2 separate regions of the Homo sapiens genome follow, and region 2 is linked to region 1. Evidence: fine-mapped expression QTL. Tissue or cell type: subcutaneous fat. Region 1 holds a variant in brackets; the other region holds the start of a gene. All regions are shown on one strand. Distances are from middle to middle.

What was found. PIP is the estimated chance that this variant, and not a neighbour inherited with it, causes the effect.
Region 2: it holds the start of MAP2K6-AS1, and the variant in region 1 is fine-mapped to the expression of MAP2K6-AS1 in subcutaneous fat (GTEx, PIP 0.95). The same link has a PIP of 0.9 or more in skeletal muscle.

The regions. Positions count from the first base shown.
Region 1 is chr17:69,478,684-69,481,452 of GRCh38, reverse strand. The region is part of intron 1 of MAP2K6 (mitogen-activated protein kinase kinase 6); the gene reads right to left. All of the region lies in intron 1 of MAP2K6-AS1 (MAP2K6 antisense RNA 1), which reads left to right. Among named protein-coding and RNA genes, the nearest start is that of MAP2K6-AS1, 5.5 kb to the left of the region's middle. The variant C/T (reference allele first, on the strand shown) is at 1,124.
Region 2 is chr17:69,484,487-69,487,255 of GRCh38, reverse strand. It overlaps MAP2K6-AS1 (MAP2K6 antisense RNA 1), which reads left to right and starts at 1,724. Exons shown (of 2, transcript NR_145982.1): 1 at 1,724-2,008. The region is part of intron 1 of MAP2K6 (mitogen-activated protein kinase kinase 6); the gene reads right to left.

The DNA.
Region 1 (2,769 bases):
TATTATTCACAATTGCCAAAAGGTGGAAGCAACCCAAGTGTCCACTGACAGATAAATAGATACACAAAATATGGTATATAAAGACAACATGCAGATGATGGAAGATTATTCAGCCTTAAGAAGAAAGGGAATTCTGACACATGCTACAACATGGATGAACCTTGGAGACACTATGCTAAGTAAAATAAGCCAGTCATAAAATGACAAATACTGTATGATTCCACTTAAACAAGGTACCTGGAGTAGTCAAATTCATACAGACAGAAAGTAAAGTGATGGCTACTAGGGGCTGGAGGAGGGGGAAAAAACTGGGGAGTTACTCTTTAATGAGTGTGGATTTTCAGTTTTATAAAATGAAAAAAGAGTTCTGGGGACAGATGCATACCAATGTGGATGTACTTAATGCCACTGAATTATACTATAATGATTAAGACGATAATTCTATGTTGTTGTGTTTTACCACAATTTAAACATCTTTCAAAAGGGCACAAATGAACTATTATTCTCTCATTTCACATTTCATCTAAACTAAGGTTTAGATGCTAACATTGTTTTCTCAAGTTCTAACAGTTAGTATTCCCATCCAGGTCTGAATCCAAAACCAAGCTAGAAGTACTACTTTCCCATCCTACCATTAAATTTTTCCATTTTAAATAAAATTTTTTAAAAAACTTTTTTTTTCTATTACCTCCAAATTCAGGTTGTTTTCAGATGATTTTGCTTCCCCAACAAGCATTCTGCTTGTTTAGCTACCCTGGAGGTGTACGCTTTCTTCAGAAGTTTACTTGAATCATTCCCATGCTTCCCAATCTCTATATTCCTGATGGCACTATAGCTTCTTGTTTCAGGATCCAAAAAGAGGAAGAATGAAATGGACTTTTTCCAAAATACCCAGTGGCTCTAATGACAGATGCCAAGACAGCTTCCTCCTTGTATGCCAAAGGCTACATTCTCTGCAGTTGAACATATTACTACTTCTCCTCAATTGTCTCAATTTCCAAATACTGTTGGACCAGAAGCTTTGCTCTCTGAAAAGCTGAAACTAGTCCCCGGGGTAAGACTGTGGAGAGTCCTGTTCCCCGTGCTTGCCAAGTGGCAAACAGGTTAGGGCTGGTGAGAAGAA[C/T]GGAATGTCCTGTGAAAAAAAGGAGGGACGTAGAAGTAGCCACAAGCAATAAGGGTTGCTGCCATGGTGTTTCATGTGCTGGGGAACGAAAGTTAAAGAACATGAAGGAGCTCAGGGTACCGATGCAAAATTCTAGGAAATGATGCTACGTTCTTTAGAATGCTCGGCTCTCCAGAACATAAGGCCCTGAATTGCTGGAAGATTTTAAAAAATACTTTTTGCTTAAATTTTATGAACAAATAAAAAAAATTCAACCTGGGAATATCAGATTAATTCTCCAAATCCCTTTATACTGTGAAAGAGCCAAGAGTTAAGTAACTCTGCAGCTAGAGTTGGGAGGCCAAGCCGGGTGGATCACTTGAGGTCAGGAGTTCGAGACCAGCTTGGCCAACATGGTGAAATCCCATCTCTAGTACTAAAGATACAAAAATTAGCCAGGCACGGTGGTGTGCGCCTGCAATCCCAACTATTCGGGAGGCTGAGGCAGGAGAATTGCTTGGAGGCAGGAGAATCGCTTGAACCCAGGAGAGGTTGCAGTGAGCTGAGATCGCACCATTGCACTCCAGCCTGAGCAACAGAGTGAGACTCCATCTCAAAAAAAAAAAAAAAAGAACAAAAGGAAAAGTACATTTCCTGGGCTCAGCTCCCCAAATATTCTCACAGTAAGGCAAAATCAGTGACATAAGCCTCCAAGTCATTGCTCAGATTCTGTCATGTTACTGAAATTTTGTTACATTTAATACAGATTGAATATACTTTATCTGAAATGCTTGGGACCAGAAGTGTTTTGAATTTTTTTTTTAATTTTGGAATATTTGTACATGCACACTGAGATATTTTGGGGATGAAACCCAAGTCTAAACATAAAGTTTATTTATGTTTCACAGACACCCCTTTACACATAGCTTGAAGGTAATTTTATACAATATTTTAAATAATTTTGCACCTGAAGCAAACTTTGTGTTAAGTACCCGAGTGTGGCATTTTTCACTTGTGGCATGATGTTGGTGCTCAAAAAGTTTCACATTTTGGAGCTTTTCAGATTAGGGATGCTTGACCTGTACTGCTTGGAAGAAGTAGGCCATGAACTAGGGCTAAGAATTTTTTTTTATAAAATAAATAGCTACAGCTATTGTAGTCATCTCTTTCATCGCAGAATGCATCCTGTTCTAGATATTCTGGCAGAAGCTGTGATCACCGGTCACACCACACTTCCTTCTGAGTGTTTACACAACCACATTATTTTTCAGTGAATTGAATACTGTATAAGCACAGGCTGAAACACAGCCACATCAGACCTAGAAAGAAAAATGGAGACACACACATTCAATATGCATCTAAGCTCAAAACCTGTCCAAAGTCTTCAACCTCAGAACCTAAGAGAAGTTCGCCCCTGTGCTAGCTCACGGCTGGCTCTGGCACAAGGCAGGCAAATGTCTTACCCAAGGAGCCACATAAGCTAACAGTGCCACCAAGAAAAGAACTGGAAGAGATAAATACATAGCACTTTCATTCACTCATCCTCTCCTCAAATATTTACTCAGTACTTACTATACGTTAGTTAGCACGGGGCACTATACACTACGCCTTGAAAGTAAAATATGAGGCCAGGCACCGTGGCTCATGCCTGTAATCCCTGCACTTTG
Region 2 (2,769 bases), 5.8 kb before region 1:
TGTATTTAGTCCTTCAGCTGAAATTACTCTTCATCACAAGTCTGTTTCCACTAGCTCGTGTAAGGATTATTGCTGAACTATGTCAGGGCTATATATAAATTCTGGTATCCAAAGGAAAAAGTCCAGGATTAAATCCACTGTACAGGCTTTCTACTCACATGTCCAGGCTCTTCTGGATCACAGAGGCAGGTTATAAAACTGTTTACCAGAAACTGTTTTGACACGACCCAGGTCTATCCAGGGAGATCTAGACTCAATCAAAAAACTAAATTGCCACGACCTTTGCCCAACATATTTTCACCTTCCTGGACTTTGGTTCCTCTGATGCTAAAATGGAAAACGTTTGGGCAATCGACTAGCTGATTTTCTCACTAAACGGTGCTCTGGTGTTTGAGAAGGGTACCACACCAGCTTTACAGATAAGGTCACCAAGTTTTGTATTCTTCAATAGCTCTGTAGTGTGTTTACAAACGAATGCCCCTTCCCTAAGCAGGGGGTTTGGATGACATTGAAAAGCCTATTCCCTACTTGACATAAATTACTTTAGCAGAAGGGTAAGGCTGAAGTGACTATTTGAAAAGTTGTGTCTGCGATCCTTATTTGCAGATGCTGAGCAAGATCAGTGCTGTTTGTATCATGTGTGGCAGTGTCCCCTCTCAATATCAAAGTAAAGGGCTCTTAGTCCCTTAATGGATTCCCTGCTCACCTTATCCCAATGATATTCTCAACCTGATGCTTCTCACTTCCTGGTAGAACACTCATCAGTCTCAGACTAGACTAAACACTCAAGATCACTGAGATTCTGAAATCTGGCTTCATGCCAGAAACCTTAACATTCAAAGTGAAATGAACACACTTAACCAAATACATCTTGATGACTCTCTCAGGGCATTTTCTGTACAGGGAGAACTTCCATCTCTTAATCTCAAGAATGGTACTTTCTCCCCCAAGAAACTGGTCCATTCTCCAATGCCTAAAATATAAACAAACAAAGTGGGACACCAAATAACACTCTCACTGCATCCAGCCCTGTAGCCAGAATACGAGTCTAATTACAGTCGTTGGGCTTCAAGTACCACAACGTGGAAAAACAATTTAGAAAATGCCTTCTCCTCCTTGTGGCCACCCCACTTCTCCTTCACATGCAGAATGCTTCCAAGTATGATATGTTCTAGACTTAATTTTAGCACAAGGCTCTTTGCTTTGTAACTCTGGTCTCTTCATTCAAAGTTTACATAAATGGAAATAGGAAAATACACAGACTTTTCAAAAAAAAGTTGACTGTGAGAAAATAAAAAGATTGTAGTCTATTGAGAAAGACATAAACATCTAAGGAAAGTTTTGATGCTTGGGACTTTTTGTACATTTGTTACTACTTTCTTAAAAAATGATGGGAAATTTGAGCAACTGTCAAGCCAAGAAAAAAAGCCCATGAGGGAAAGGGTCAAAAGAGGCCAGAGAGGTACACAGAAATGATGAAGCAGTGTCCCAAGGGACAACGTGGGATCAAGAACACAGGAGACAGGTAGCCTCAGAGACAGGAGTGAAGGATGTCTCTCTTTAAGACAAGAAGGAAAAGGGGCAAAAGCGGGTGACAAACAGAAAAATCTGATGTGAAGGGAAGCTGTGAGAGGCACTCAGTATAGATGTATAACAGGGTGTTCTGCCAAGATTTCCCATGGGGTCCTAAGCAGCATGAAGCCAAGAAACATTAGGAACAGCCACAATAGGTCAGCAAAGGAGTTCCCGTAGTTTCAAATGAAATTTTACCCAGTACTCTAACAGTGTATAAGCTTCTGAGGAAGTAGTCAATGTTCCATAGAGATAAGAGAAAATTCAAACAGGCAAACAACTCTGCAAGGCTGAATTGCAGGCATGATCTAAAACTTCCTTCTTTCTTCTAAAGGCCTCCTCCGTTCCAAAGTTGCTCATCCTAAAACCTGAAAAAAAAAATGACTCAGAAGTGGTTCCCATCTCAAGAACTACCCACGAGTCTCAGTGGACACATGTGAGTATGAGATGTGAGTATGGGATACTTTTCTAGAGATTTTAGAATGTTTGCTACTGAAGAGTTTGAATTGTTAATTTTAGAGTTGGTCCATGACATTACCTTTGCACTCTGACTCTTATTAAAATACCTTTATTGAGATATAATTTACCTATTCACTTATTTAACATGTATTTCACCTATTTTAATTGTACAATTCAATGGCTTTTAGAATATTCAGAGCTGTGCAACCATCATCACAATCCATTTTAGAACATTTTTATCACCCACATAAAAAACACCATACCCATTATCAGTCACTCCCTCTTTTCCTTCAACACTACCCTTCCCTCTAGCCCCTGGCAACTACTAGCCTACTTTCTGTCTCTACAGATTTGCCTATTCTAGATATTTCATATAATGAAATTATACAATATGTGCACTTTTGTGACTGGCTCCTTTCACTTTGCAAAATATTTTCAAAGTTCATCTGTGTTGTAGCTTGTATCAGTAATTCTTCCTTCCTATTGCTGAAAATATTCCATTGTATAGAATACCTGTGCCACCTTTTATTTATTCATTCATCAGATATGTATTGTTTCCACTTTTTGGCTATTATAAATAATGCTGCTAAGTACATTCATGTACAAGTTTTTTGAGTGAGCATACGTTTTTAATTCTCTTGAGTATATACCTATGAGTGAAATTGCTAGGTCCAACAGTAACTCTATATTTAACCTTTCCTGAACCTGCCAACCTGTTTCTCAAAGCAGCTACACCAT